7 separate regions of the Homo sapiens genome follow, and all the other regions are linked to region 7. Evidence: fine-mapped expression QTL. A gene starts in region 7. Each other region holds a variant in brackets. All regions are shown on one strand. Distances are from middle to middle.

Region 1 (4,670 bases), 570 kb before region 7:
GATATCTAGCTGTTGAAACTGCAGCCCTCCCAATGACTCTAATACTCAAGGGATTAAAAGCACAGCCCCAGAAGTTTTACATACAAAAATAGTAACAACCCAACTAAATTTGACTGCATTAAAAAAAATAATTATTTCTAAATCTGCTGAGCAGCTGAACAGTCTTCAGTGATGCCTACTGTCACTGGGATTCGAAGACTCCCGCTCCCGGGAGCGCCGGGCCCTTTTATGCCTATGGGATTTATCTCGGCTCCTACGTCTTTTAAAAAAAAAATTATTATACTTTAAGTTCTGAGGTACATGTGCAGAACGTGCGGGTTTGTTACACAGGTACACATGTGCCATGGTGGTTTGCTGCACCCATCAACCTGTCATCTACATTAGGTATTTCTCCTAATGCTATCCCTCCCCTAGCCCCCCACCCCCCGACAGGCCCCAGTGTGTGATGTTCCCCTCCCTGTGTGCATGTGTTCTCATTGTTCAACTCCCACTTATGAGTGAGAACATGTGGTGTTTGGTTTTCTGTTCTTGTGTTAGTTTGCTGAGAATGATGGTTTCCAGCTTCATCCATGTCCATGCAAAGGACATGAACTCATCTTTTTTATGACTGCATAGTATTCCATGGTGTATATGTGCCACATTTTCTTAATCCAGTCTATCATTGATGGCCAGTTGGGTTGGTTCCACATCTTTGCTATTGTGAACAGTGCTGCAATAAACATACATGTCCATGTGTTTTTATAGTAGAATGATTTATAGTCCTTTGGGTATATACCCAGTAATGGGATTGCTCGGTCAAATGGTATTTCTGCTTCTAGATCCTTGAGGAATCGCCACACTGTCTTCCACAATGGTTGAACTAATTTACACTCCCACCAACAGTGTAAAAGCATTCCTATTTCTCCACATCCTCTCCAGCATCTGTTGTTTCCTGACTTTTTAATGATCACCATTCAAATTGGCATGAGATGATATCTCATTGTGGTGTTGATTTGCATTTGTCTAATGACCAGTGATGATGAGCTTTTTTTCATATGTTTGTTGACTGCATAAATGTCTTCTTTTTAGAAGTGTCTGTTCATATCCTTCCCCCCACGTTTTGATGGGGTTGTTTTTTTCTTGTAAATTTGCTTACTGAGTGGGCAAAAACTGGAAGCATTCCCTTTGAAAACCAGCACAAGACAAGGATACCCTCTCTCACCACTCCTATTCAACATTATATTGGAAGTTCTGGCCAGGGCAATCAGGCAAGAGAAAGAAATAAAGGTATTCAAATAGGAAGAGAGGAAGTCAAAGTGTCTCTGTTTGCAGATGACATGATTGTATATTTAGAAAACCCCATCGTCTCAGCCCAAAATCTCCTTAAGCTGATAAGCAACTTCAGCAAAGTCTCAGGATACAAAATCAATGTGCAAAAATCACAGGCATTCCTATACACCAATAATAGTCAAACAGAGAGCCAAATCATGAGTGAATTCCCATTAGCAATTGCTACAAAGAGAATAAAATACCTAGGAATACAAATTACAAGGGATGTGAAGGACCTCTTCAAGGAGAACTACAAACCACTGCTCAAGGAAATAAGAGAGGGTACAAACAAATGGAAAAATATTCCATGCTCATGGATAGGAAGAGTCAATATCGTGAAAATGGCCATACTGCCCAAAGTAATTTATAGATTCAGTGCTATCCCCATCAAGCCAACATTGACTTAGAAATTAGAAAGTAGAATTAGAAAAACTACTTTAAATTTCACATGGAACCAAAAAAGTGCCCGTATAGCCAAGACAATCCTAAGCAGAAAGAACAAAGCTGGAGGCATCATGCTACCTGACTTCAAACTATACTAAAAGGCTACAGTAACCAAAATAGCACAGTACTGGTACCAAAACAGATATGTAGGCCAATGGAACAGAACAGAGGCCTCAGAAATAACACCACACACCTACAACCATCTGATCTTTGACAAACCTGACAAAAAAGAGCAATGGGGAAAAGATTCCCTATTTAATAAATGGTGTTGGGAATACTGGCTAGCCATATGCAGAAAACTGAAACTGGATCCCTTCCTTACACCTTATACAAAAATTAACTCAAGATGGATTAAAGACTTAAACATAAGACCTAAAATTGTAAAAACCCTAGAAGAAAACCTAGGCAATACCATTCAGGATATAGGCATGGGCAAAGACTTCTTGACTAAAACAGCAAAAGCAATGGCAACAAAAGCCAAAATTGACAGATCGGATCTAATTAAACTAAAGAGCTTCTGCACAGCAAAGGAAACCATCATCAGAGTGAACAGGCACCCTACAGAATGGGAGAAAATTTTTGCAGTCTATCCATCTGACAAAAGGCTAATATCCAGAATCTACAAAGAACTTAAAGAAATTCGGCTCCTACTTTTACTTCTATGACTACGCCCTTCAGAACACCCATTGTACTGGCTAGAATGTGTGTCTGAGCTCCGCCCTCTGTCCCTATTACTGGTCTTTTCTTCTCTTGCCTCCCTCCTGCTTGAGGACTTGTGCTCATGCTTGGGTTTCTCTTTCTTCAGGTCCCTCTCTAGGTCCTCTGCTCCACCAGAGTAGGCAGTCCTGGCCTTAGGGAGCTTCATCCCCTCCCTGGGCTCTGACTTCTGAGCTCTCTCTGAGTTCTTGCTGCTGTGCTTCTCAGGGCCAGGGTCATCCTTTTCTTTCACTGTCTTGCTTCTGGGTGATGAAAGAGGAT[G/T]GTTGCTCTGCCTGTACCTCCCAGCCAATTTTCTCTTTTTCTTTTTTTTTTCTTTTTGTCATTTTTGTGCTTTTTTGTTGGTTTTTCATTTTCAGAGCTCAGACAAACTTGGTGAGGGAGTACAAGCCCCACAGCCCTTCTCCTGGAGCTCTTTGGTCACATTATCCATTTCTTCTGAGTCCTTAGGAGTCCAATAGTTAGACACATGATCCACTCGGATAGTTCTTCCTTTGATCTTGATCCCATTAAAATTGTCAATGGCCAGAATTGTGCTCCTCTGGCCTTCATAGCAGAGGAAACAGAATCCTTTGGATTTCCCAGTCTTCTTGTCCCGCATGAGATTGATGTTAACAATCTCCCATATTGTGAGAACACACAGATGATGTCCCCTTCAGTCAGTTCATAAGGAAGCCCTCCCAGGAAGATCCAGGCACTGTCCTTGTACTCGGAAGGCCAGGACATCTTATCGGCCACCCCAAGCTGGACCTCTCGCTCATTCAGCTAGTTGATCGGCTTCATCTTAAAGGGTTCATCTCTGCGGGCTCGCACTCAGCGTTCAGGTATCAGAACAATCACTTTTATAACCTGTATGAAATAGAGTAAAGCACCAGCAAACCTGCAAGGGGACAAGTTTTAACTGTAACTGTGTCAGTTAAGGAGATAACTGATGGTTGGGAAAACAGAAAAGTATCTATGGGGTGAGGGGCATAGGGACTCTAAGTAACAGGGGAGAGTCTTTTGGACAGAACTCAGCAGAAATTGTTCCTTTCTCCTACTTATATCCAACAGGGTAGCCATATTGCAAATATATTTTCCAGCAAATGTATTTTGCAGACAGCATTACCAGAGCCAGTTTGCACTAAAGAGAGTTGCAGTGCCAGCATTCCACAAATCTGTGAAGATAGCAACTAGAGTCATAGAAATATAAGGACAGGAGGTTGAGCAACTGCCATTATATGAAAAAACTCTTTGCAGTTAATATTTTGGAACTTAATGGGTAGACACTATAGACTAACTAAGGAGATCCCTCTCACTGTCTGGCAGCACTTCCCCTACAAATCTCTATATATTGCAATAAAAGCATTTATTCTGATCATAAGAATTATATGTGCTTATCATGGAAATTTGAAAAATACCTCAAAATATTAAAAAGGGGAACATTCTATCATCCAGTGATAATAGCTTGTGTACTGATGTGTATTCACCCAGCCTTTTCTTCCACTGAGAATGATGTATATGGCTGTGTGTGTGTGTGTGTGTGTGTGTGTGTGTGTTTTAAAATCGATATCATATTCCAAAAACAAATCTCTTTTTTCACTTAATACATGAGGAACATTTCCCATGTCATTAAATATTCTTCAAAATTTCATTGTTAATGACTGCATAGTGTTCAGGTTTTCTGTATAACTGTTAAGCATTAGTATATGAAACATTTTTCTCTCTCTGTAATTATTACTTGCAATAGCTAATGCAATGAAATAGGAAAATTAAATATGTAGTGTACATTATTATTATTTTTTTTTGAAAGGGAGTCTCGCTGTGTTGCCCAGACTGGAGTGCAGTGGCACAATCTCAGCTCACTGGAACCTCCACCTCCCAGGTTCAAGCGATTCTCCTGCCTCAGCCTCCGGAGTAGCTGGGATTACAGGCACCTGCCACCACACCTGGCTAATTTTTGTATTTTTTTTAGTAGAGACGGGGTTTCACCATGTTGGCCAGGCTGGTCTCAAACTCCTGTAATCCCAGCACTTTGGGAGGCCGAGGCAGGCAGTATACATTTTTGAATGTGGGACAAAATTAATATTATTTGAGAATATTATTATTTTATACGTAGAAAAACACAAAGCAACCCAGTAAATTAGCTATCAGGGTGAGAAAATTTAGTAAGTTAGCTAGAAAAAAGATTAGATTTGTTTTATATTGACAATATACAATTAGAA
Region 2 (4,670 bases), 41 kb after region 7:
TTTAACCAAAAAATATTTTAACCAGCCATCAGCTGCCTCCCAGTCTTATTTGGTTAAAATGTTTTTGGTTAAATTATTTTCCTAAGATACTTGATATTTTGGTACTATAGGTTAAAATTATATAGTCTTTACTTTCATTTTCATACTCTTTCCCTGACAAAAAACGAAGTTGATATTCTTTTGAATATTGACCTTATACTAGCAAACTGATATACTATTATATATTGAATAAATTATCTTTAGTTGTTTTGGATTCTTTTCATGCACAGTCTAATCATGCATGAATCACAAACGCTTTGTTTCCAACTGGCCAATCCTCATTCCTTCATTTACTGCTCTTTGGATTACTACACTGGCTACTACCTCTAGTATAAAAAGTAATAGAAGTACTTGTAGCAGAAACTCTAGGTTAGGTCTCAAGTTCAAACTAGAGGCTTCCAACATTTCCTTAAAAGATGTATCTGTTGTAGGTTTTTCATGCATATCCTTTTATCTAGTTTGGTAACATTTTTCATATTTGATAAACTTTATGTTTAAATAATTTTAGATTTACAAGAAAATTATAACAATAGTAAGAAAGTTCTCATATGTTCCACACTCAATGCCTCCTGTTATTAACACCTTACCTTGGTAAGGTTTCCTAAAACTAATGAGCCAGTATTTGTACATTGTTTTTAACAAACATTCTTTATTTATTATTGAACATACTTCAGTCACATTTTCTTACTTTTCACGAAATTCTATTTTCTATGCCAGGATCCCCTAAGGATACTCCATTACATTTAGTTATCATGTTCCTTCGATGCCCTTTGGCTGTACCGGTTGATTGAGACATTTCTCGATTTTGAAAACATTGACAGTTTTGACAGTTTCGTATGGTTAGGTATTTTGTAAAATTGACTTTGACTGGGATTTATGTGATTTTTTTCTGTCATGATTTGATGTAGGTAATGTTTCCTGGAAGGATGAACAGAGAGGTGAAGTGCCGTTCTTATCATACCGACAGCACATAGTACCAACAAAATTTGTCACTGATGATGTTAACTTGATTACCATGGCATCATCGTGCTTTTTAGCTTTATTCAGGGTAAAATTACATTATTTTTTGCCGTATGTTATACTGTCATCATGAGAAGAACAGGGAGACCCAGGACCAGCCAGTAGTCACATGAAGCCTCTGAGAGATAACTGCAAGACTCCCTGCCCACAAAGAGAAGGATCCACAGAATCCAGCTCCACTGCTGCTGTCAGCCCTGGGAGGCCCTGGGGCATGGTGGCCCACTGTGGTGTCCCCCTGACATTTTAGAGGGTAGAAAGAGGAGAAGGCTCTGCCTAGGTGAGTCTCACTTCAGATCATGAGAGGTGAAGGGACTCAGGCCCTTCCAGGCATCCCCAGGATGACACAGAGGAAGGACTGGTGAGACACCCCTCCCAAGAAACAGAAGGACACACAAATCCAGGCCCTGTTTTCACCCCTGGGAGGCCTTGGGCAGGGCCCTCAGTCAGAGATGCTAGCGCTTTTCACTTCGTCTTGGGGGGCGTCTCATGGAAATGGGGACCTTGATCTGAAGAACATAGTCTCTGGACAGCAGGGGAAGGGCTCCCAGGCCATGTCAGGAATAATAACTGCAGGAAAACAGAGAGTCCTGCCCACCCCATTTTAGAAAAAGGACACCAGAGTCCTGCCTTGGGCCTGGGAGGCCCCACCCCACTGTGGGTGGATGTGATTCTCCCTCTCTTGCACCTTGCAGGTCTCAGGGATGGGAGGGGCTTATTCGGAGGTGAAAGACTCAGTTGCACAGAGGCAGGAAGGCCAGGCGGTTTCCAGGAGTCCAGGCACAGCCTCTCGGGAAGGCAGGAAGGGAACACCCATGACTGGTAGTGCCCCTCCCCTGTCCCTGTGCCTGCTGCCAGCTCTGGAGGACCCTATCAGGGTCCCCAGGTTTACAACTTTCTGACTTGCATTTTGGGAGTCAGCCGGAGGGGAAGTTTTCTCTGAGGAGGGCAGTTTCAGTTAAGCAGAGGGAGGAACCCCAGGACTGGCCACTCAACGAGAAGAGAACTCTGTGGAAGG[A/T]CAGTGACCTTCCAACATGGAGGAGAGGCACAGGCTACACCCTTTCCCTTCCTGCCGTCAGCCCTGGAAAAAGGTTGTGGGGGGAGAAAGCGGGGAGGTGGGCAGGGAAATATGGACGAGGGCTTTGAAGTGAGGAGGAAAAGGTGGAGGGATACCGAGAGGTGGGCAGGAAGGGGTGGAAAGGGTCGGGGAGGTAGGCAGGAAGGGGTGGAGGGGGCCCAGGAGATGGGCAGGAAGGGGTGGAGAAGGGCCGGGAGGTGGTCAGGAAAGTGTGGGAAAGAGGTAGAGAGGTGAGGGGTGGTTCCTCCATAGAGAGGAGACCTAGCCCCACTGGGAGTCTGAAGTATTTGAGGCATTTTGTGAGAAGGCTTAATTGAGATCAGCAGACAGAAGACTCTTAGAACTGGCCGATCCTCAAGGTAAGGGCCCTAAGGGAGAACTGAGGGACCTCCCACCACAGAAAGAAGAAGCTCTTGCCTGCCCTCTACCTGCTGTGAGATTGTAGGTCGCAGACAGGAAGAGGGTAACCGAGGGCTGAGGGACACGTCTTCATGACAGAAGAAGGGAGGAGGTGCCAGCTCTCTAGGGAATAAATAGGAAGACTTTGAGAAGGACAAGGGGAAACGCCACCTCAGAGGACAGACTCCCAGAGATTCCCAGCATGCTCCTCCATATCAGCCCTCGTAGAGCTCCCCAGTCAGCTCAGGCTGAGCGGCAGCCCTCTCATTGCTGGGTGAGAGGTGCAGGGAAAGGGAAGGCCTTGGTCTGAGGGTCCCGTGGCAAATCAGCACAGGGAGCTGCCTCCAGTTGGCAGAGGGAAGATTCCCAGGCCCTGCTGGGGATAAGAGTGAGGACTGAGGAGTCACATGTGCATCAGAACAGATGTGAGGCCAGCCCAACTGCCCCCGTGGTAGAGTGCTGGGAGGTGGCTGCCACCTCACTACCTCCCACTGCTCTCAGGGATGTGGAGTTTGCCCTGAGTTTTGGCTAGAAGAGTGGTAGGGACATGGCCCTGTCTGAGAAAAGGTGAGGATGCTAATTAAATTCTGATGGGACCATGCAGTCCAGAACTGTGGGGCTCTGGGAGTCTGGTCAGCCCCAGCTGTCAGCCTTGGGAGGCCCAAGACTCTGCTTGCAGTCTTTAGCCTGAGGGGCTCCCTCACTTCCTCTTGCAGGTGCTCCAGGAACCAGGAGTTGAAGACCTGGGTCTGAGGCACACTTCCTAAAGTCAGCACAGCAGAGGAGGCCCAGGCAATATCAGGAGTCAAGGTGAGTGCACGCCCTGACTGTGTACCAAGGGCCCTACCCCCACAAACAGAGCAGACCTGGCAGCACCTGGCCATAGCCACCTACTGCCATTCCTGGTGCCTCAGGCTCTGCCTGCCAGCTGTGCCCCGAGGTGCTTTCTCACATCCTCCTACAGGTTCCCAGGGGACAAACCCCCTAGGATGGCAGGTGACCCGTGAGGCCCTAGAGCACCACCTTAAGAGAAGAAGAGCTGTAAGCCGGCCTTTGTCAGAACCACCATGGGTGAGTTTCTCAGCTGAGGCCACTTGCAGTGTCCCTCTCTCCCTCAGGCCTGTTGGATGCCATCATCCACATCCCTGCTCACACATTTACCTCCTGCTCCTAAGGAAGACGTTATGCCTGTGTTTTGAAATGTTCCTAGCGGCAACTTTGAGAAAGACTTCCAGAACCAAACTGTGATAGAGAACTTGGCAGATGCACAGGATTCCACAGAGGAGGAAGAGGAGAAAACCTCCTCCATTTCCTCTTCCTCTTTCTACTTATTATTCCCCTCCTCTTCCTTCTCTTCTTCCTCCTTCTCCTCCTCTTTCTCCTCTTCCTCCTCCTCCTCCTCCTCATCCTCTACTCTGATTCTTGGTGCTCATGAGGAGGAGGAGGAGTAGCTGTCTGCTGGGATGCTGCCTCTTCCCCAGAATCCTCCTGAGAGTCCTCCCCAGGGTCCTCTCCAGGGTTCCCTGTCCTGCTCCTCCTCCACTTTATGAAGCCCATTCAATGAAGAGCCTAGCAGCCAATAAGATGAAGATACAAGTACCTGGCACAGCTTGCCAGAGAGCGAGCCCTTGTTCACTTATACACTGGATGAAAAGGTGGACAAGTTGGTGCAGTTTCTTCTCCTCAAATATCAAGCAAAAGAGCCTCTCACAAGAGCAGAGATGCAGATGAATGTCATCAACACATACACGGGCTACTTTCCTATGATCTTCAGGAAAGCCCGTGAGTTCATAGAGATTCTTTTTGGCATTTCCCTGACAGAAGTGGACCCCGACCATTTCTATGTCTTTGTAAACACATTAGACCTCACCTGTGAGGGGAGTCTGAGTGATGAGCAGGGCATGCCCCAGAACCGCCTCCTGATTCTTATTCTGAGTGTGATCTTCATAAAGGGCAACTGTGCATCTGAGGAGGTCATCTGGGAAGTGCTGAATGCAATAGGGGTGTGTGCTCAGAGGGAGCATTTCGTCTATCGGGAGCCCAGGGAGCTTGTCACTAAAGTTTGAGTGCAGGGACATTACCTGGAGTAGCGACATGTGCCCAGTAGTGCTCCTCCACGTTATGAATTCCTGTGGGG
Region 3 (4,670 bases), 610 kb before region 7:
TAAAGGACCTGATGGAGCTGAAAACCAAGGCACAAGAACTACATGACGAATGCAGAAGCCTCAGTAGCCAATTCGATCAACTGGAAGAAAGGGTATCAGTGATGGAAGATCAAATGAGTGAAATGAAGCGAGAAGAGCAGTTTAGAGAAGAAGAATAAAAAGAAATGAACAAAGCCTCCTCGAAATACGGGATTATGTGAAAAGAGCAAATTTACGTCTGATTGGTGTACCTGAAAGTGATGGGGAGAATGGAACCAAGCTGGAAACCACTCTGCAGGATATTATCCAGGAGAACTTCCCCAATCTAGCAAGGCACGCCGACATTCAAATTCAGGAAATGCGGAGAACGCCACAAAGATACTCCTCGAGAAGAGCAACTCCAAGACATATAATTGTCAGATTCACCAAAGTTGAAATGAAGGAAAACATGTTAAGGGCAGCCAGAGAGAAAGGTCGGGTTACCCACAAAGGGAAGCCCATCAGACTAACAGCTGATCTCTCGGCAGGAACTCTACAAGCCAGAAGAGAGTGGGGGCCAATATTCAACATTCTTAAAGTAAAGAATTTTCACCAGAATTTCATATCCAGCCAAACTAAGCTTCATAAGTGAAGGAGACATAAAATCCTTTATAGACAAGCAAATGCTGAGAGATTTTGTCACCACCAGGCCTGCCCTGAAAGAGCTCTTGAAGGAAGCACTGAACATGGAAAGGAACAACTGGTACCAGCCACTGCAAAAACATGCCAAACTGTAAAGACCATCGAAGCTAGGAAGAAACTGCATCAACTAAGGAGCACAATAACCAGCTAACATCACAATGACAGGATCAAATTCACACATAACAATATTAACCTTAAATGTAAATGGGCTAAATGCTCCAATTAAAAGACACAGAGTGGCAAATTGGATAAAGAGTCACAACCCATCAGTGTGCTGTATTCAGGAAACCCATCTCACGTGCAGAGACACACATAGGCTCAAAATAAAGGGATGGAGGAAGATCTACCAAGCCAGTGGAAAACAAGACAAGGCAGGGGTTGCAATCCTAGTGTCTGATAAAACAGACTTTAAACCAATAAAGATCAAAGGAGACAAAGAAGGCCATTACATAATGGTAAAGGGATCAATTCAACAAGAAGAGCTAACTATCCTAAATATATACGCAGCCAATACAGGAGCACCCAGATTCATAAAGGAAGTCCTTAGAGACCTACAAAGGGACCTAGACTCCCACACAATAATAATGGGAGACTTTAACAACCCACTGTCAACATTAGACAGATCAACGAGACAGAAAATTAACAGTAAGTTTCAAAGAATGAAAATGAATCAAGCAGAGATTGTAGAGCTGAAAAATGCAAGTGATAGGCTGCAGAATCTCTCAAATTCTGTTAATAGCAGAATCAATCAACAGAAGATGGTATTAATAAGCTTGAAGAAAGGCTATTTGAAAATGGTCTTTTGTCAGAAAAGACAAAAGAAAAACCGAGTAGAAAGCAATGAAGCATGTCTACAGGATCTAGAAGATAGCTTCAAAAGGACAAATCTAAGAGTTATTGGCCTTAAGGAGGAGGTACAGAAACACATATGAGTAGAAAGTTTCTCCAAAGAGATTATAATAGAGAACTTCCCAAACCTAGAGAAAGAGACACATATCCAAGTACAAGTATGTTATAGAACACCAAGGAGACTTAACTGAAAGAAGGGTGCTTCAAGTTATTCATTAATGAAACTCCCAAAAATCAAGGATAAAGAACTTTTCTTAAAGCAGCAAGAGAAGAGAAACAAATAACATCCAATGGAGCTCCAATATGTCTGGCAGCAGACTTTTCAGTGGAAACCTTACAGGCCCGGAGAGAGTGGCATGACATATTTAAAGTGCTGAAAGAAAAAAATTTTAACCTTAGAATGATATATCTGAAACAACTATCCTTCAAACATGAAGGAGAAATAAAAATGGGCCCAGAGAATCAAAACCTGAGGGATTTCATCATCACTAGCCCTGTCCTACAAGAAATGTTACAAGGAGTATTTCAATCAGAAAGAAAAGGATGGTACTGAACAATAAGTAATCAACTGAACAATAAGTAATCAACTGAAGGTACAAAACTCAGTGGTCATTGTAAGTACACAGAAAAACAGAATATTTTAAAAAAGTAACTGTAGTGTGTAAAGC[G/A]CTCTTATTCTAAGTAGAAAGCCTAAAGGATAAACCAATCAAAATGGAAAAGCACAACTTTTCAAGACACAGTCAACACAATGAGATACAGAAAGAAATGACAAAAAATTAGAAAGCAGTGGGACAAAGTTAAGATGCAGCTTTATTAGTTTTATTTTTGTTTGCTGTTTGTTTGTCAAAATCGTCTTAAGTAAATATCAGATTAAAAATAATGGTTTATAAGATATTATTTGCAAGCCTCAAGGTAACCTGAAACTAAAGAACATGCAATATATACACAAAAATTCGAAGGCAAGGAACTAAATCATCTACCCACAGAAAAATCATCCTAAGAAAAGACAGAAAGGAAAGAAAGAAGGAAGATAAGATCACAAAAACATCTGAACATAAAAATCAAAATGACAGGAGTAAGTTCCTACTTATCAATAGTAACATTGAATGTAAATGGGCTAAACTCTTCCATGAAAAGACATAGACTGGCTGAATGTATGAAAAAACAAGACACATTGATCTGTTGCCTGCCAGAAACACACTTCACTTCTGAAGACACACATAGACTGAAAATAAAGGGATAGAAAGAGATGCTCCATGCGAATGGAACCAAAAAGAAGCAGGATTAGCTATATTCCTAGCAAACAAAATAGATTTCAAGACACAAAATGTAAGAGGAAAAAAAGTCACTATATAATAATGAAGGGATCAGTTCAACAAAAGGCTATAAGAACTTTACATATATGTGCACCCAACCCTGTAGCACCAAGGTATATAAAGGAAACACTATTACAACTAATGGGAGAGATAGGTCCCAATAGCATAATGGCTGGGGGCTTCAACACCCTACTTTCAGCATTGGACAGTTCTTCCAGACATAAAATCAACACAGAAACATCACACTTAATGTACATTACAGACCAAATGGATGTAACAGACATTTACAAAACACTTCTTCCAAGGACTGCAAAATACACCTTCTTTTACCCAGCACGTGGATCATTCTCAAGGTTAGAATATATGTTAGGTCATAAAACAAGTCTTAAAACATCAACATTCAAATAAATTGAAATAATTTCAAGCTTCTTCTCTGACCACCAAAAAACAAAAAAAGAAAATCCCGAAAATAACAAGGGGAACTTTGAAAATTATACAAATCCATAGAATTAAAAAAAAAAAAATGCTCCTGAATGACCCACAGGTCAATGAAGAAATTAAAAACTAAATTGTAAAATTTCTCAAAATAAATGATCATGGAAACACAACATACCAAAACCCATGGGATACAGCAAAAGCAGTATTAAGAGGGAAGTTTATAGCTATAAGTGCCTACATTGAAAAAGAGGAACACCTGCAAATAATTCATGACGCATCTTAAAAAAACAGAAAAATAAGCTCAAAGTGAACCCCAAATCAGTAGAAGAAAAGAAATAATGAAAGACCAGAGCAGAAATAAATGAAAGTAAAATGAAGAAAGTCAAAACACTATCAAGGAAACAAAAAGTTGGGTTTTTTTTAAAAAGCTATACAAAATTGAGAAACCTGTAGCCAATCTAAGGAAGAAAAAGGAGAGATCGAGATAAATAAACTCCAAAATTGAAAGGAGACATTACAGGCTAAAGCTGCAAAAATTCAAAGGGCTCTTGTGGTGACCGTGGGAAACTGTATGTCAATAAATTGGAAGATCTCCCTGAAATGAAAATTACTTCCTGCTGACGAGGGGACGGAGAGTTTTTTGGGTTGACAGTAGGAGCAATGCCGTCTGTAGATGTTTTTGGGTAGTTGTCTGTGAAATGGCCGTGATCCTGTTAGTTAAAATTTTCCGAGAAAGGTTAATTAGGCAGGGTAAGAAAATTAGTCCCAGGCATATTGTTAGGAGAGGGCCCAGAAATAGGATGACCCATGCTATGATTGTGTTCCCAAACCAAGAACTTATTTGGTTGTTTTGGTACTCCCTTAGCTTTTTAGCCTTTTCTTTATGTTTGTTTTAGCAGCGTTTTTTAACTAGGCCTGATTGGTTGATAAAGAAACAATATTCCTTACCTAATGAGAGGTAGAAGCACATGTTTGGAAAGGCCCATGTGTTAGTTTCTGTTAGTAAGCGTTATTCCTGCTAAGAGGCTAATAATTAAGCAAAATGCTACAGTAATTGAGATTGTTTTTGTCTGACATTTTACCCTGAGGGTGCTACAGTATATAGTTTTACTGCAAATAGTAGGGTGAGTAAAGCAGTTTCCACAAGGGTGGTGTAGTCAATAATTTCCATTAAAAAGTTGTAATATTTGGCTTGAAAGGAGAGATAGGAATGACAAAAGTGTTTGGTGAGGTAGGGGTGAGACTGAGTAAGACGAGCAATTCTTTCTCGGTTATTTATTTTTTATGATTTTTAGCTTACGATTTCCTATTTCTTTATTTGCTCCTGTGAGGGTTAGGGGGCTTAGAGGCAGTGCCTGCTGAAACATCTAGTTTCCAGTTTATAGGGCTTTAAGAAAGCACAGCTTA
Region 4 (4,670 bases), 590 kb before region 7:
TACTTATGAAAACTGTGATAGTTACCATTTAAAGTTATGTCCTTGTTAACCATTTTTATAACCTGTGAATTTCAGGTTGTCCTGAGTAAGAACATTAAGGTTAGATAAAGGGTCGTTTTTTTGTTTGTTTGTTTGTTTTTGTTTTTTTGTCAATAACTCAGGATTTAGCTATTTTCATTAACCAAACAATATTAAATTCCTTACTTACTAAATTTTACATAAACAAAGATAATTCTCATTTGAGCTGCATTCATAGCTTTAGAACCCTCATGCCAAATGTTGACATCTAGCAGAGATAAATATGTTGAGAATTCCAAAGCCATTTCTAATTCAATTTCACTAAAATTTTTAAAACCAGCTTGTTTATTGAAGATTTGCTTAAGTCACATGAACTTGAAAAAGCATTTGGCTTAAAGTCTATTTTTCTGAAAAGCATTAGATTTAAGTGCCTTTGTTAAGCCAATTAATTAGAGCTCTTTTCTACATTTTTAGTAGTGAAATGTCATATCCATGACACATAAATACATAGATGTATTAGATATGTAGATAGAAGTAGATCTTATAAATTCCTAAGGCCTTTATTTTTTCCTCGTATTTTAGATTTACAATTTCTTCATAACCTATTTTATTGCCCTAGGCAGTTGTCATCTAGATAGCCCTAAATGTGCATATTAAAGGAACTCTTAGGTAAAAAAAATCAGATAGTGAAATTTACATGTCAAAGCACAGAGAGAAAGAGTCGGGCGATGTTAGAGGGAGATTAAACATGGATGCCAAATCAAACACAAAATTGTAGAAATATATTATAGGATTGTATAAGGAGACCAGTTGTATTTAGATAGGGACTACCTGTCTTTTAACTGGATCTCTGAGCTCTGGGCAGAGCCCACACTGAATCCTAGGTCTCCAAAAAGGGAGAATTACTATGAGGCTACACCAAGTGACGGTTTTACAGTGTCCTTTTTTTTTTTTTAACAAAGACATTTCTAAGTGTTCAAGCTACTTTCTTCCTTAAAAATCCAAGAATAAACTAATAACAGTTTTAGTTAAAAAATCAAGTAACACAATACAAAAGCAGGCAGCTTAAGATCTGAGATGAACTTGTCTGTTTACACTCTTGGGAAAAATAGAGGTTTCTCCCCAAAAGGGAGTGTGGCATCTTCTCCATTTTCTTTAAGGAATGCAGGCAATTATAAACTATTTTACGTCCCTCATGCAACAGTGGGTAGCAAAATAAAGGAGAGACAGCAGAAGTAAATGAAGAAAACAGAATGTCATCGTCTGAGAAGAAAAAAAAAAAAACTTTTGCTCAAAAAAGACAAGGTCCTAGGAGAGAAGATGTAGAAAGTAGTAATGTTTCTCTTCAAAACTCATCTTGGTTTAAAAATAAAATAATAGACACTATAAGTAATAGCTCCTTACTCTAAAGCCTCCTCTCAACTACTAGTTCTTACACTTGAGCCCAGTTAGTTGCTTTGGCTTACTCAGGCATGTCTGGACAGGCCCAGGCAAGTCTTAGCTCATAGCTTATGCCCCTTCCTTTTTTGAAATGTTAATTGCTTCCTTAAACCTTTAGTAAGCAACTTCTTTTTCTTCTTTGTTCTCCCTTGCACTTACCTGTTTAGGAAAGTTTTAGGTTATTAGCAGATTTGGTATCAGTTGAAGACTGTGAGGTCCAGCTCCAGCCAATGGATGCAGGACAGAGCCGTAAGGCTGACCCAAATACGTAAATAATAAATATGTCTGCTTTTCCTTTGTTCAAGTGTGCTGTCACGATTGTTCGATCTGCGAGGGGCACCCTTTCTGCAGAAAGTAAAGATTGCCTTGCTGAGAGATCCTTTGTCTTTTCTTCATGGCACCGATTATCTGTTTCTAACAGAGGAAAAAATAAAGGCCTTTTAATACAAATGCACACATGCACACACACACACATCTCAGATGTTAGCTTTTAATTAAGCTGACTTTTAACCCTTGAGCTCCTTTAAAAAAATCTTTCTGAATCTCATTACCATTTTTTAGCTAGGAAAAATTGCTGATGTTTCAAAAGAAGCAAGTATCAAACCAGAAAGGGCTTGATTTAGGAAGCAAACCCAGGCTGTTGTGGAAAAAAAAGAAGGCAGAACCTTAGCTATGAAACTGCAGCATGGGGCAACAGCGTTGCTCTTTCAATTTGGCCTGGATAGCAAAAAAGTGGCCTTGCTATGTACATAAAGCCCCTTAAGTACTCAAAATCAAAAATCTTTATTGTTTTTTCTTTTGCTGAGCATTTTTCCTCCCAAGCCCTCCCCACCTTTTGTGGAAATTTAGCCACTTCAGAGGCCTTGTTCCTCATAATTTGGAACTTTCCTTTAGATTTGATCAAGTTGGATAGTTTCCCAATGAAGAAAGAAAGACCAAAACAACAAAAACAGAAACAAACAACGGCAAAAAAAAAAAAAGTTAAGCAAAAACACAAAGTATCTCAAAATTTATATGATTACTGAGCACTCTAATGGTAAGGAGAAATTAAGACCAGCTTGTTGTTAATCTTAACTTTAGACAAGACAAAACCCCTATTGAGCTACTTACCTAGTGATGGGTCTCAGGCTGAAGACTGCTGTCT[G/A]TTACCCTAGAAGCAGGAAAAAACTCAGATTCATCTTCCGTGCTGGGAGCAAGGTCAAACTCCATAAAGGAATTACCTGCCTTCCATTGACATGGAAGCAGGAAAACTTGCCTTCCTTGTTGAAAGCAGGTAAATTTTCAGAAAAGGAGTTGTGCAGCAAAATAAAGTTTAGATTGCAACCAAATTTTTGGAGATCAGGGATTCTTTGGAGGGGTGGCTTTCAGGCCTCAGCAAATTGTCCTATTGGTTTTAACCATGAAGATAGCTCAAGCTGGTACCAAGTACCAGTAGAAGATTTGTGAAAGGTCAGGGGCACCTACACTCAGAATCCCTCTGTGGTTACCCAAATGTGAACCCCAAATATCTGAGACAGGTCTCAGTCAATTTTGAAAATTAATTTTGCCAAGGTTAAGGATGCACCCATGACGCAGCCTCAGGAAGTCCTGATGATACAGACAGGAGACAAGGAAATACTGGGTAGGAGAGGGTGGTTCCCCAGCAAAAGTGCTACCCTCAAGCCTGGAAACCCATGGCTCTAAATGGGAACAGGCATTCCTGTTTTCATGACTAAAAGTTGCCTTTGGACCCACCACATCCCCCTATCCTGTACCTATATAAACCCCAAAGCCTAGGCTCCATGAGCAGACGAGCAGAGGAACAGAAGAGCAGAAGAATGGCAGAGAAGGAGAGAAGAGAAGGAGCATCTGAACATTGAGAGGAGTTCAGCTGGGGACAGCAAATCTCCAGGGAAAGATCATCTTCTGACTCTGTCTCCCTTTCAGCTCCCCATCCGTCCCACTGAGAGCCACCCTGACCACTCAATAAAACCTCCACATTCACCATCCTTCAAATCCATGTGAGACCTGATTTTTCCTGGATGCTGGACAAGAGTTTGGGATACAGAAAGCTGTCACACTGGCTTTCTGCCCTTGTGAAAAGGCAGAGGGTCCATTAAGCTGTTTAACACTTAAGCCATCCGTGGATGGCAAAGCTAAAAGAGCACACTGTAATATACACCCACTTGGGCTTTGGGCTTCACAGGCACCCACCCCTGGATGCTGCCATGGGTCTAGAGCCCAGGAGTGCTTGCCCCAGCTTCTGCACCTGCCTGTCTGTGTGTTCCCTTTCCCATGAGGGGTTTGAACATGCATGGCAGCCAGAGGAGCCACACGCCTGTCGCACACTTTTTGATGGGGTTGTTTGTTTTTTTTCTTGTGAATTTGTTTAAGTTCCTTGTAGATTCTGGATATTAGCCCTTTGTCAGATGGATAGATTGCAAAAATTTTCATCCATTTTGTAGGTTGCCTATTCACTGATGATAGTTTATTTTGCTATGCAGAAGCTCCTTAGTTTAATTAGATCCCATTTGTCAATTTTGGCTTTTGTTGCCATTGCTTTTGGTGTTTTAGTCATGAAGTCTTTGCCCATGCCTATATCCTGAATGGTATTGCCTAGGTTTTCTTCTAGGGTTTTTATGATTTCAGGTCTTACATTTAAGTCTTTAATCCATCTTGAGTTAATTTTTGTATAAGGTGTAAGTAAGGAAGGGATCCAGTTTCAGCTTTCTGCATATAGCTAGCCAGTTTTCCCATCACCATTTATTAAATAGGGAATCCTTTCCTCATTGCTTGTTTTTGTCAGGTTTGTCAAAGATCAGATGGTTGTAGATGTGTGGCGTTATTTCTGAGGGCTCTGTTCTGTTCCATTGGTCTACATATCTGTTTTGGTACCAGTACCATGCTATTTTAGTTACTGTAGCCTTGTAGTATATATAGTTCGCAGTCAGGTAGCATGATGCCTCCAGATTTGTTCTTTTTGCTTTGGATTGTCTTGGCTATACGGGCTCTTTTTTGGTTCCATATGAAATTTAAAGTAGTTTTTTCTAATTCTGTGAAGAAAGTCAGTGGTAGCTTGATGGGGATAGCATTGCATCTATAAATTACTTTGGGCAGTATGGCCATTTTCTCAATATTGATTCTTCCTATCCATAAGCATGGAATGTTTTTCCATTTGTTTATGTCCTCGTTATTTCCTTGAGCAGTGGTTTGTAGTTCTCCTTGAAGAGGTC
Region 5 (4,670 bases), 370 kb before region 7:
TTATATATAAGCATATAAATACAGAAGTATATATATTGAATACATTGTTGCTATTCTTTTTTAAACAAACCATTATATGTTACATCAATTACAAATAAGAAAAATAAAAGCTTTTAGTTTACTTATTCTTTCTCTAATTTCTTTATGTAGATCCAAGTGTCTAATCTATATTATTTTCCTTCTCTCTGAATAACTTTTAACATTTCTTTCAAAGCTAGTCTTCTGGCAATAAATTCTCTCAATTTTTGTTTATTCAAGAAAGTCTCTATTTCTCCTTCACTTGTGAAGGATAATTTTATAGGATTCAAAATTCTAGGTTGGTGAAGTTGTTTTTCTACCAAAACTTTAAATATTTCACTCCACCTTTTTCTTGCTTGCCTGGTTTCTGAGAAGTCAAGTGTAATTCTTGTCTTTGATCCTATATAGGTGTCTTTTGTTTCTGATGGCTTGTTTCAAGACTCTTTTCTTATCTTTGATTTTCTGCAGTTTGAAAATGGTATGCCTGGCTGGGCGTGGTGGCTCACGCCTATAATCCCAGCACTTTGGGAGGCCAAGGCGGGTGGATCACCTGAGGTCAAAAGTTTGAGACCAGCCTGGCCAACATGGTGAAACCTCATCTCCAGTAAAAATGCAAAAATTAGCTGGGCGTGGAGTGGGCACCTGTAATCCCAGCTACTCGGGAGGCTGAAGCAGGAGAATCGCTTGAACCCGGGAGGCAGAGTTTGCAGTGAGCTGAGATCGTGCCACTGCACTCCAGCCTGGGTGACAGACTGAGACTCTGTCTTCAAAAAAAAAAAAAAAAAAAAAAATGGTATGCCTATGTGTATGTTTGTGTTTTTTTTTTTTTTTGGCTTTTATCCTGCTTGGTTCTCCAAGCTTACTGGATATGTGGTTTGGTGTCTGATATTAATCTGGGGAAATTCTCAGTTATTATTCTGTTACACATTTCTTCTGTCCCTGTCTCTCTTTCTTTTCCTTCTGATATCCTCATTATGTGTATGTTATACCTCTAAGAGTTGCCCCACAGTTCCTGGATATTCTGTTCTGGGGGTTTTCGGTATTTTTTTTTCTTTTTTCTTTTTAGTTTTGAAAGTGTCTATTCCATACCCTCAAGCTCAGAGATTCTTTCCTTAGCTGCATCCAGTCTACTAATATGCCCATCACAGGCATTCTTCATTTCTGTTGCAGTGTCTTTGATCTCTAGCATTTCTTTTAAATGCTATCTCAGAATTTCCATCTCTTTGCTTACATTATCTATCTGTTCTTGCATGTTGTCTACTTTTTCCATTAAAGCTCTTAGTACAATAATACGTATTTTCAAAAAAATTCCTCGTCTGATAATGCCACCATTCCTGATATATTTGAATTTTGTTCTGATGTTTGTTCAATCTCTTCAAACTTTGTTTTGCCAGTAATGTCCTTGTAATATTTTGTTGAAGGATGAACATCGTACATTGGGTGAGAGAAACTGCAATGAAGAGGCCCTGAATGATGTAGTGGTATGTGTTTGAAGGTGGCATGTGAAGTGTTCTATAGCTTTATGATTAGCTTTGTCTTTTTTTTTTTTTTTTTTTTTTGAGAAGGAGTCTCACTCTGTCACCAGGCTGGAGTGCAATGGGGTGATCTCGGCTCACTGCAACCTCCACCTCCTGGGTTCAAACGATTCTCCTGCCTCAGCCTCCCAAGTAGCTAGGACTACAGGCGCACGCCACCATGCCTGGCTAATTTTTTGGTATTTTTGGTAGAGACAGGGTTTCACCATGTTAGCCAG[G/A]ATGGTCTCGATCTCCTGACCTCGTGATCCACCCGCCTCAGCCTCCCAAAGTTCTGGGATTATAGGTGTGAGCCACCGCGCCGGGTGATTAGCTTTGTCTTTTGGTGAACCTGTGCCCCTAAACTGTGAACTTAGCCAATACTTCTCAGCTTCTTCCCCCTTGGATAGGACAGAATGTTTATAGTGGTGAGAGTTGAGCATCTCCCTTTCCTCACATGAAAGGCTACAGGGAGCTGGAATTGGGTATTTTCCTTCCCACAAGTAGGTTCTGAAATAGTCCCAGCAGGTTAGACTCTTGTAAAATACTGTAGTTTCTCCTAAGGACATGTCTTCTGAAGAAGAACAAAATGCTTTGGTGTATTTCAGAATGTTTACTTTTCTAAAGCATGAGGGGACTTTCTGATGCTCATTATGAAGACCCAATAGAGCTCCAAAAGGTAAAAACTCACAAAATGTAAGTGCAGCCATATAACAGAAGTTTTTAACTTTCAGAGTTGTCCACTCTGAGCCTCCAGCGTTTCACCAATTACAGTTTACGTTTTCTTACTATGGCATTGGTTCTTGTGGAGGTTTCTGCTTTGGGGTTTCTGCTCTAGTAAGCTGTGATTCCCTTTGTCTGCCTGTTTCTGTCTCCAATTTTGGGGGCAGCAATTTACTCTGTGACCTCACTTCTTTGATGAATCTATAGCCTAAGAATAGTTGTTGATTTTCCCTTTTGTTCAGCTCTTCACATGTTGATAGGAAGGAGCAACAACTTCCAAGCACCTTACATGTTGGACCAGACACCAGAAGTGGTAGAAATTAAAATGAACAGAATAATGTTAAGGACATATCCAAGGTTATACACCTAAGAAGTAATGAATCCAGACTCAAAACTAATGTCAGAGCCCACTGTCAACCACTGCCCTAAGCTGATCTCAGACCACTCTGCTATACTTAAAAAGCGTATATTGGTTATATGTGGGCTCTAGAGCTAGACTCTTTAGGTATGAATCCAGTTCCATCACTTTTATTAGTTGTATGACTTTTTGCCTAAGTCTGTTGTAGGGATTAAGTGAGTTGGTTTCTGAAATGCACTTACAACAACAGTGACTAGAAGTGAGAAAGCGCTTACTAAATGGTGGCAGCTTTTGGTACTGCATGGAAGAGCCAGCATTCTTATCCCTCCAATACATGAAAAATGCACAGGTGTGGTATGGTGAATTTGTAGCATCTCTTCTGGAAATTCGGGCGGAAGAGATTTCCAAAGCATCTGTTTTCTTGAAATGCTGCACCCTATATAGTTTCTTGCTCTTCAAAGTCTGGTACATTAAACCAACAACATTGGCATCTCCTGGGAGCTAATAAAAAAATGAAAATTCTCAAGTCCCATCCCAGACCATTTGAATCAGAATCTGCATTTTAACAGGATTCCCAGGTGATTAATTGGTGCATTTTAGTTTAAGACTCTGATATAGCATAGTGGTTAAGAGCACAGGCTTTGAATTCAGACTCATTTGCATCAGAAGCGAAGTTCTGTCAATTATAAGCTCTGTAATCTTTGAGCAGTTTTCTTAACTATCTGTGCCTAATTTCCTCATCTATAAAATTGGAATAATAATAATACCTCTCTCACAGGGCTGTTGAGAAGATAGACACACAGTAGGTGCTCAGAAAACAAATGTTATAGCTACATTGCTACCATTATCATCAAAGTGTCAAGGCTGAAACAGGCCAGGTGAAAAGCTATCCCCATGAAGTCAGTATATAGGGGAAAGAGGGCACTTGAGGATGGCTCAAGTCTGGAGGGTCACAGCCTGGATACTTTATTCAACTACAGTGGAGAGCAGGGTATTATCACAAGGAATGCTTAGATCACATGTGAAACAAAAAGGGCATAAAGTTGAAATTGTGAGGCAAAGACATCAGGACAAGAACAAGTTGAAGATTAGAAGGAAGGACAAGGAGAGAACTAAGCAGGAAGAGTGACTGCTGGTTCAGAGAGAAAACCTAGTCTCCAGCACTGGTACAACCAAGTGGTATGATTGTGTTCTGATGCACTTGGATCACATGGCCAGAATAATAAAGGGAGCTCCTTAAAGGTACTGGAGGGGCTCCGCCAGCACCGCTCCCCACCCCCCAAAAAAACACACACCTGGTTTAGAATACCCCCAAGGACATCGATCCATCTCATCTACTGTATCCTTAATGCATCCCAGGAACAATTAACTAAAGCGGGGTTTCACTGGGTGCAAGAGGAGGAATTCATTCCCTATTTCCATACATTTACTCTTTCATTACTGCTTTGGAGTGCATGAAACTTGACCATGATTAAACAGAAACACTTTTTTGAGTATGCAATCCAAGGAGCTATTTTTCCCCAACCTACTGGGCTGAAAAATATTTATTCTTCCTGAAGGATGGAATGGTAGCCTCCGTGGTTTGGCTTCTTGCAATAACACTCCCTAAGGGTTAATGTGCTATTAATATGGCAAAAAAGGAAGAAACCCCTTTAAATAGCAGCTTATGCTTCTTTTTGATTTCTCTCCTGCAAAAGTTGATTTACTGTGTGTTTCTTCCATCTGGCAGGAAGCTAATCTGAATATGAATCAATCCTTGCAAAAATAACTGCAGGAAATTTTAGACATTCATAACTTTCCAAAGTTTTTTTTTTTCTTTAACAATAGCATTTTTGTCATTCTTTCAGTTGTGCAAAGTTTTTCAATTGAAATGAAGTATGACTATTTAAGGAATTCTGCCACCTCATCCTGAATGCCTCCTTTACTGTTATAGATTCACATTGCTCATCTTCTAGATATTTGCACATAAATGAATAATTGCTGTTATCCCAAAAAGTTTTAATCATGAGGGGAAAACAGATTAATGTGATGTTCCCAACTAGAAAAGCAACATAGCAAAA
Region 6 (4,670 bases), 440 kb before region 7:
ATGCAATTGTAAGAAATAATGCAGGGAGGTCCCATATACTCCAGTTTTCAAAATGGTAATATCTTGACGAATCGTAATACAATATCACAACCGGGATATTCACATTGATATAGTCATGTAAGAAAACACTTTCATCACCACAAAAATCCTTCATATAGTCCTTTTATAGCCACACCCATTTTTGTCCTGCCCCATCCCTCCTTAAGCCTTGGCAAACAGTAACTTGTTAAGCTGTTGAATATTCCATATTTTCTTTCTCTAGTGGCACGTCCTAGTATTAAAAACAAAAAAGCAAACAAAAAAATTTTTGAATTAAAATTATTTCCAAGAAATCTGGAGCAAGAGAGTTCCCCTTTCAATATTACTATTGTGGCAAAAGTTTCTGAAGCCCCCATCCAAATTTATTTTAAAATATGTTTATGAACTTAGGGTTTTTTTGTTTTGATTTTTTGTTGTTTTTCACAAACCAGATGCCACCATATGGCTTCAATGTGTTCTACTTCGGTGTTAGAAACAAAGTGAAATGGCTGCCAGATTTCCCTGGAGTCCTCATATTATAAAGGAAATGACTTGTGAAGCCAGGAGACTCAGTATTATGATAAGCCCTCCAAAATGGTTTAGATCTGAAGTTCAGCATACCCAACAAAAACAAAAAAGAACATTAGATGGTGCCTGCACAACAAGGTAGCCATCCCACCCAAATGCCTCAAAGGGATGCAAGCTGATGGTGTTAAAAGCTATTTTTCTTCAGTGGTTTGATTCAGTCTGAGTTCAATTTTAGAATCTCTTTTTCCTGAGTTGCTACAGGTATACCCTTCCATTAGTCAAAAAAGTTTCATTTGTAAATCTGACACCATGTATTTATATGAGATTGAATGCTAAACTTGGTTGAATTACGTCACTATAATTATCAAGTATAAAGATTCAGGCAATTGCAGCCTTAAATTCATTTACCTTGGCCTATTACCTATGCTCTTTTTCTTATATGCTCTTAACATCATCTTTTAAGAAAACGAAAGTGGCTATATTTATCACTCAGGATATGCTAGGTTATGCTGTAGGAATAGACAATCTTAAAATCTCAGTGGCTTAATAAAGCAAAGGTTCATATCTCATTCATGGAATGTCTGCTGCTAAATATGATACTGAAAAAAAGGTAAGCAAGCATATACCAGATTTCAAGATAATGCAAAATTTGATGGTATAATAAGGTGCACAAGTCATATACATAGGGTAAAACGTTTGAAAATATAATTTAGGATAATGGCTCCGTTTAACATGGATGGTGAGTACCTAGGGATTTACTACCTTTTATTCTTTATATGTTACATATACTTTTGTGCATGTATGAACTATTTCATAAAAAATGGTTGTTCAAAATGGCACATTTTCAGTGATAAATTTGAATTTTTCAAACATTGTAGAAGTCCTATTTGAGAGTATTAAGTAATGACAGCTACAGCTAGTTTATAGGGCTTAATCAAAATAATAGTCTAACCCTGGCTATCCTGATTATACGTTTTCATAAATTCTATAGACAAAATTTACACTTTTGAATGACACAGAACAGGAAATATATGACTGTAATCAACAGCATGGACTGGAGACAAAATGTCCTGGATTTGATTCAGGTTACATCAACTATAGACATCAATAATATAAATAAAACTGTAAAGATGCTTTAAGACTGAGAGGTGTGAGTTCTTGGTCCATTCTAAATTTGAACTGAAATATTATTCTATGATCATCGTTGGAAGAAATAATATAGTTCCTTTGAGATGTGGTTCTATGTGGAACTGTTTAACCAATGCTAATTACATAGGATTCCAGAGTCTGGAATCAACTCTGGCTTTTGTTTTTAATTCCCACGATAGTCTAGAATTGATGCTAAGTCATTATATGCATCCAAGGAGATTTAGTTTTATAGAGGAAGTTTAAAATCTCAGCTTAACGGTTGTTTGTTTATAGGAATGCTAGTGACTTTTGTACATTGATTTTGTATTCTAAGGCATCACTGAAGTTGTTTATTAGATCAAGGAGCTTTTGGGCCAAGACCATGGGGTTTACTAGACACAAAATCATGTCTTCTGCGAACAGATAGTTTCAATTCCTCTCTTCCTATTTGGATGCCCTTTATTTCTTTTTCTTGACTGATTGTTCTGGCGAGGACTTCCAATATTACATTGAATAGGAGTGGTAAGAGAGGGCATCCTTGTTTGTCTTGTTCCGGTTCTCAAGGGGAACGCTTCCAGCTTTTGCCATTCAGTATGATGTTGGCTGTGGATTTGCCATAGATGGCTCTTACTACTTTTGGGTATGTTCCTTCAACATTTCCTTTATTGAGAGTTTTTAACATGAAGAGATGTTGAATTTTATCAAAAGCCTTTTCTGCATCTATTGAGATGATTATTTGGTTTTTGCTTTTAGTTCTGTTTATGTGATGAATCACATCTATTGATTTGCATATGTTGAACTAACCTTGCATCCTAGATATAAAGCTGGTTTGATTGTGATGGGTTAGCTTTTTGATGTGCTGCTGGATATGGTTTGCCAGTGTTTTGCTGAGGATTTGTGCATTTATATCCATCAAGGATATGGCCTGAATTTTAGTTTTTTTATTGTGTCTCTGCCAGGTTTTCGTATCAGAATGATGCTGACCTCACAGAATGAGTTAGGGAGGAGTCTCTCCTCCATTTTTGTTGGAATAGTTTCAGTAGAAATGACATCAGGTCTTCTTTGTATATCTAGTAGAATCTG[G/A]CTGTGTATCTCTCTTGTCCTGGGCTTTTTTTCACTTGGTAGGCTATTTATTACTGACTCAATTTTCAAGCTTGTTTTTGGTCAGTTCAGGGATTCAATTTCTTCCTGACTCAGTCTTTGGAGGGTGTATTTGTCCAGGAATTTATCTAGTTCTTTTAGATTTTTTAGTTTCTGTGCATGGAGGTTTTCATAATATTCTATAGTGGTTATTTGTATTTTTATGGGGTCAGTGTTAGTATTCCCTTTGTTATTTGTAATTTTATTTATTTGGATCTTCTTTGTTTTCTTCTTTATTATTCTAGCTAGCAGTCCATTTTATTAATTTTTTCAAAAAACCAACTGCTAAATTTGTTGATCTTTTGAATTTTTCTTCATGTCTCAATCTCCTTCAGTTCAGCTCTGATTTTGCTTATTTCTTGTCGTCTTCTGCTAGGTTTGGGGTTGGTTTTCTATTGCTTCTCTTTTCCCTCTAGTTGTGATGTTAGGTTTTTAATTTGAGGTATTTCTAACTTTTTGATTTTGGCAAATAGTGCTATAATTTTTCCTCTTAACACTGTATTAGCTGTGTCCTAGGGATTCTGAAATATTGTATCTTTGTCCTCTTTAGTTTCAAAGAACTTTTTGATTTCTCCCTTAATTTCATTACTTACCCAGAAGTCATTCAGGAGCAGGTTATTCAATTTCCCGGGAATTGTATAATTTTGAGTGAATTTCTTAGTATTGATTTCTTATTTGATTGCACTGTGGTCTGAGAGAGTGGTTGTTATGTTTTCAGTTCTTTTGCATTTGCTGAGGACTGTTTTATATCTGAATATGTGGTCAATTTTAGAGTATGTGCCCTGTGCAGATGAGAAGAATGTATATTCTGTTGTTTTGGGGTGGAGAGTTCTGTAGATGTCTGTCAACTCCATTTGAGCCCGTGTTGAGTTCAGGTCCTGAATGTCTTTGTTAATTTTTTGCCTTGATGATCTGTCTAATATTGTCAGTAGAGTGTTTAAGTCTCCACTGTTTTATTGGATGGGAGTCTAAGTCTCTTTGAAGGTCTCTAAGAGCTTGTTTTATGAATCTGTGTGCTCCTCTTTTGGGTGCCTATATATTTAGGATAGTTAGGTCTTGTTGAATTGAAGCCTTTGTTATTATGTAATGCCTTTCTTTCTTTTTTTGATCTTTGATGGTTAAATGTCTATTTTGTCTGAAATTAGGTTTCCAACCTCTGCTTTTTTTTTTCCATTTGCTTGGCATATTTTTGTCCATCCCTTTATTTTGAGCATATGGGTGTCATTGCATGTGAGATGGGTCTCTTGAAGACAGCATACCAATGGGGTTTGGTTTTTTTTGTTTGTTTTTTTGATTTTTTTTAACCTATATTGCCACTCTGTGCCTTTTATTTGGAACATTTAGCTTGTTTACATTCAAGGTTAGTATTGATATGTGTGGATTTGATCCTGTCAGCACGATGTTAGCTGATTATTTTGAAGACTTGTTTGTGTGGTTGCTTTATGGTATCACTCTCTGTACTTAAGTGTGTTTTTGGAATGGCTGGTAACGGTCCTTCCTTTCCATATTTAGTGCTCCCTTCAGGAGCTCTAGTGACAGATCTAGTGGGAACAAATTCACTCAGCATTTGCTGGTCCAAAAAAGGATCTTATTTCTTCTTTGCTTATGATGCCTAGTTTGGCCAGATACAAAATTCTGAATTGGAGTTTCTTTTCTTTTAGAATGTTGAATATTGGCCCCAACCTTTTCTGATTTGTAGGCTTTCTGCTGCGAGGTCCACTGTTAGTTTCATGGGTTTCCCTTTGCTGGTGACCTGGCCTTTCTCTCTAGCTGCCTTTAACGTGTTTTGTTTCATTTTGACCTTGGAGAATCTGCGCAAGAACCCTGACAGTCTTCCTGGTCCCTGAGTGGCAGCT
Region 7 (4,670 bases):
ATGCTGTAATCTGAATCGATCTTTCAATTTGTTCAAAATTCAGTTTTCTTTTAACTTTGTAAAATAAAAATAACTCTTGTTACTACATGTTGGGACATTTTTAACAGATTAAATGTGATAATATAAATCTGAAGTATTGAGCACTGTACCTGGCATAGAATGAGCTCATTATAATATCAGTCTCCTTATTCTTTCCCTTGTCTAACCATCAGTGGTGAGAAACAGCTGTTGATTTGCCAAAATATATGCATAATTTTATAAATGAAAACATCCAAAATCTCTTTGGGTGGCCTATTAAGGAATGAGCTACAGGGTTTTTCACCTTTATTACTATTGACATTTTGAGACAGATAGTTCTGTGGGCTTTTTTGAGGGGGTGTCATCTTGCTGAATTTAGAATGATTAGCAGCATTCCTAGTTTCTATTCAATAGATGCCGATAGCACCAAGAGCCATCCCAGTTGTGACAACCAAAAATATTTCCAGACTGCAAAATGTCTTCTTGGGATGGGGTGCAAAATCACCCCCAATCTGAGCACTACTGAGCTAGAGGAATGAAAAGGACATTGTGTTGGAAGAGGGTAGGGACTTAAGCTTTGAAATGTTGTTCATAGCTTGGAAGAGGCCCACCTTAGCCGTTTCTGCCATTGGGTGAACTAGGCTTTTTGTGCCTAGGTGTTAGTGAATGGATGTCAGAGCAGAAGGTAGGAGACAGGAGAAGAGTCTTCTCTATTTAGAGGGAATGGAAAAGATGCAGGGCAGTGTCAGAAGGTTTCAGATCTCTCATGAGCAAATGCAAAACTTCTGTGTTCTCAAGACCGGAAACACATTTCTCAGCCAAGGGAAGAGGCTAATTGAGAGGAGTGATCGTGGCTCTTCTTCATTTTCTTAGTAAGCTCCTGAAGGTGGCAAGACCGCAGAAAAGCAATGCATTTAATACCTCAGGGACTTGTTAGTGCCTGAAATTGAACATGGAGGCATTGGGATGATTTCATTGTGCCTCAGAAGTTATTAAACTGAGTCAGGCAAGTCTGCACTCTGGCTCCCCATGTGCAGGTGCAAGCAGTGGCCCCAGTGGGGATCCGAGGGCAGTTCCCTGGCTGGTGGGGTAATGTTCCAGGCAGGAACACAGCTGCCTCTGCTGCACAAAAAATCTGCCTGAAAAGTGGGAGGCAGCAGGTTGTAATAAGCCCCACTCAGCTCCCACACACTTGGCAAGTCAGTTTTCATACCCACAGTGTTCTGCTAGCAGCAGCAGCTAACTGGGTTTCAAGTGGCCCGTGCTCAGAATTTAAAACCATCCCAGGCCATAAGCTTTCCCTATGGACACAGAAACCATATCTTTCAGGCTGCATCCTTTCCAGTCCACCTGTGAAGCAGGGCCATGCAGCTCATGTGCCTTGTTGCCGTAGCACACTTCTCACTTGCCCCTCGGTTCTGGCCAATCAGCTTTGTCCTTACTAAGGATTATATCACAAATCCCAGTTGGGCTCTTCTCTCAAACTGTGACTGCAGCCTGAGTTAGACTTCTGCAACGTCCCGTGAGGTGGGATCAGGAATGGCTTCCCTCCATTCTTGCTGGAATCTGGGTCTGCACACAAAGCATGTCCCGATGCTGCTCCTTCTTATATATTCCTTACTTTTCACTGAATCACCTCTAGAGCTGAGTAGGTTTGAAGTCCTCCCTCATGACTTGTATTGCCTGGCTCGCCTGTGGGAGTATATGTCATGACAGCAATCTATCCCTCTCTCATGCTCTGGGGACTAATGGTTTTCCATCTGTTTTATGATGTAGTCTGTTGCCTGCCACTTCATTCAAAGGGTCTGTGGTTTCTTTCAGTTTTTCTGTTAAGTTCTTACATTGTTTCTTCGAATAAATTTTACAGCATGAATCTCTACATGCCATTTTGTCTTACCAAGTGGGATAAGTATGCTTATAATGCTTCCAATCTGCCATCTTGGAAAAAAAGAAAAAAAAAACTTTAAATATTTTGTCTGTAATGTGCTATGGAAGAGACCTTTTCACATTGTATCTGTTTAGGAATTGATGGGCCTCCTGTATCTCAATGTCTAAGTGTCTTGCTCGACTTAGGAAGTGTCATCTATTATTTCAATAAATAGGTCTTTGAAAACATGTTTTCTCTCTTTGCCTTCTGGGCTATCAGTGATTTTTATATTTGGTCACTTTATGTTGTTAGATAGATTCCAAAGGTTTATTTTATTATTTTCTTTTTTTCTTTATTTTTGTCTGACAGCGTTATTTCAAAAAAAACTGTCTTCAAGCAAAATGTGATCTTAACATAAGTCAGTTATGATTGAGTATATTGTTGAAGCTTTCATGTGTATTTTTTAGTTTATTCACTGCATTCTTTGGCTCCAGAATTTCTGTTCGTTCCTTTTTTATGGTCTCTATCTCTTTGGTAAAGACAGGGTGGCAGTGGCCATGCTGCTGCCCTGCCACTGGGTGTTGGATGCCACCTTCAGTGATGGCAGTCTAGGCCAGTGGGTGAAAAACACATGTGCCACATATGCCTTATCCCCAGTGGTGCTCCCACCTCAGCCCCAGGTGTGGTAGCCCATGAATGCTCATGTCTAAGCCCCAGGTTAACAGCCAGCTCTTCTTTTGCATCTCAGCCTCAGTGTTGCTTGGCTCCAAGACAGTGTGCAGTCTGTTGGGGGTGAGGCTCTAAGATGCTATCTTGCCCAGCCTTGATGTTCATGTCTTTCCCTTGGTTGCAGTAGCCTGTGGTCGCTCATGTCTGAATCTCCAGGGAAACATCAGACATTTAGTTTGCACCTAGGCCTCAATGCCACTGGGCTCCAGGACAGTATGTAGTTCATCGGGGGTGAGGCTCTGCAGTGGTGCCTCATTTGTGCCTCAGTCCTAAAAGCAGCAGCCCACGCCTTCGTCCCACCTCTGCACCAGATGCTGTAGTCTGTAGTCACTGATGCCTATGTCCCTGGGGCAGCAGTTCGTGCTTCTCTTGCACCTCAGCCCTGGGCTACTGGGCTCCAGGACAGTGCTCAGTCTGTTGAGGGCAGGGCTCTAAAATGGTACTTTGTTGTAGCTGCTTAAGTCTCAAGAAGTGTGAGGGACCCAGCGGGAGCTTTCTCCCTGAAGCAGTGCCATCATACAATCTCCTGGCAGCTTTCTATGTTAGTTTCGGGGCCCATGATGGTTGAAGGGATCTCCTGTGGCTGGGATTATAGGAGTCTATAGTGAGAATGTAAACTACTGAGGCTCTCTCACCTATCCTTTCTCTGTATTTGGAGTCTCTCAGCTCACAGCTGATCCTGGATGAGCAGGCTGCCTTGATTCCCTCTCCATCTCTGCTTTAAGTATTGCCTATCACTTTTCTAATGGATTCCAGTGATTTCCTTTGAATTATATATTCAAAGTGTGATTATCGACTCACCGTTTGGTTATTTTTAATGGAGAAAGTGAGTACAAAATGCCTCTAGTCTGCCATATTCATGGTTTCCAAGAAATAATTTTTAAAGGTTTTTAAATATTTTATGTAATTATAATGATTATGGGCATAAGAAGGATTATGGAGAAGAACGGAGCAAAATAAAAGCTTCATTCACTCTGCTGTCATATTTGATTATATCTTGAGGTCAAATTGATCTTTGCTATTGTCTTGGCTGCCGGCTCTGGCTACAGCTAATCCTGGGCAGGCTTTGCAGCTCCTACCACTTCCAGGCCCACAGCTGCAATCCCAAGCTTGCTCACCAAAACAAGTGTTTATTCATTATATCTTCAGTAGATTTTATTTTATAAATATGAATTGTTTATATGCATTTCTAATATGTCAAATGCTTTACTAGCTTTTTAATATCTTTATATCCATTTTCCCTGGATCATTACTTACTGTTCTTAACTCAGTGGTTCTTAACTGGAAGAGATTTTGCCACTTAGGGGATACTTGCCAATATCTAGAAATATTGTTGGTTGTCATAATTGGTGGCAGCAGGGAATGCTACTGGTATTTAATAAGCAGAGACAGAGATGCTTCTAAGCGTCTTATTGGACAAAGGACGACCTCACACAAGAAAGAATTATACTGCCTAAAATGTGATGGTGCTGACAGTGAGAAACCCTGAGTTTAACATAATTTGCTCAGAACTCTAAAAATGATTCACTTTCCAAAAATTTGCTGCATTTTTTCTTCTGGTCAGAATGTGCACAATGGAAATTCTTCCTGAAGGATTTGTGTGAGGAGACCTATTCTATAGCTGTTAAATGATTGGCAGGGAGGTTGATAGATGGAGGTGAAGTCAGCCAAAACTTAACTGATATTTAACAGCCAGGAAATACCCAACCTGGAAAGTATTCATTCATAGCATCACAAACCACTAAAGAAAAGTGATATTTTACCTCTGAGAAAGTTAACAGCAAAAGTATAGTCTTTCTAATTAGTTTTTAGCTTGCAATCTAAATAAATGACAAGTAGAGAATATCAGGTCATAAAATATCATTTAATTTTAAGAAATATTTTCATAAGAATATTGACATAAAAGTGATTTAAGAAAGTGAAAGTTACATTTAGCACAAGATTTTGCATTTTTCAAAAGTATATGATATTGGAAAAACATATAATTACATATTATTTTGAATTTGTTCTATGTAGCAAACTTTGTTCAGACCTCTTTAAGAACATTTCATAAATT

What was found.
Region 1: its variant is fine-mapped to the expression of MAGEC3 in pituitary (GTEx, PIP above 0.99). The same link has a PIP of 0.9 or more in cerebellar hemisphere.
Region 2: its variant is fine-mapped to the expression of MAGEC3 in thyroid (GTEx, PIP above 0.99). The same link has a PIP of 0.9 or more in skeletal muscle.
Region 3: its variant is fine-mapped to the expression of MAGEC3 in pituitary (GTEx, PIP above 0.99).
Region 4: its variant is fine-mapped to the expression of MAGEC3 in nucleus accumbens (GTEx, PIP above 0.99). The same link has a PIP of 0.9 or more in caudate, cerebral cortex and hypothalamus.
Region 5: its variant is fine-mapped to the expression of MAGEC3 in coronary artery (GTEx, PIP above 0.99).
Region 6: its variant is fine-mapped to the expression of MAGEC3 in coronary artery (GTEx, PIP above 0.99). The same link has a PIP of 0.9 or more in cerebral cortex.

The regions. Positions count from the first base shown.
Region 1 is chrX:141,260,951-141,265,620 of GRCh38, forward strand. It overlaps the pseudogene RBMX2P2. Among named protein-coding and RNA genes, the nearest start is that of SPANXC, 21 kb to the left of the region's middle. The variant G/T (reference allele first, on the strand shown) is at 2,731.
Region 2 is chrX:141,877,261-141,881,930 of GRCh38, forward strand. It overlaps MAGEC3 (MAGE family member C3), which reads left to right. Exons shown (of 8, transcript NM_138702.1): 3 at 1,915-2,171; 4 at 4,143-4,536. Among named protein-coding and RNA genes, the nearest start is that of MAGEC1, 24 kb to the right of the region's middle. The variant A/T (reference allele first, on the strand shown) is at 2,075.
Region 3 is chrX:141,227,511-141,232,180 of GRCh38, forward strand. No RefSeq gene overlaps it. Among named protein-coding and RNA genes, the nearest start is that of SPANXC, 13 kb to the right of the region's middle. The variant G/A (reference allele first, on the strand shown) is at 2,178.
Region 4 is chrX:141,245,871-141,250,540 of GRCh38, forward strand. No RefSeq gene overlaps it. Among named protein-coding and RNA genes, the nearest start is that of SPANXC, 5.7 kb to the left of the region's middle. The variant G/A (reference allele first, on the strand shown) is at 2,603.
Region 5 is chrX:141,464,754-141,469,423 of GRCh38, forward strand. No RefSeq gene overlaps it. Among named protein-coding and RNA genes, the nearest start is that of SPANXA2-OT1, 36 kb to the right of the region's middle. The variant G/A (reference allele first, on the strand shown) is at 1,772.
Region 6 is chrX:141,396,220-141,400,889 of GRCh38, forward strand. No RefSeq gene overlaps it. Among named protein-coding and RNA genes, the nearest start is that of SPANXA2-OT1, 100 kb to the right of the region's middle. The variant G/A (reference allele first, on the strand shown) is at 2,758.
Region 7 is chrX:141,835,874-141,840,543 of GRCh38, forward strand. It overlaps MAGEC3 (MAGE family member C3), which reads left to right and starts at 2,443. Exons shown (of 8, transcript NM_138702.1): 1 at 2,443-2,565. The coding sequence starts at 2,443.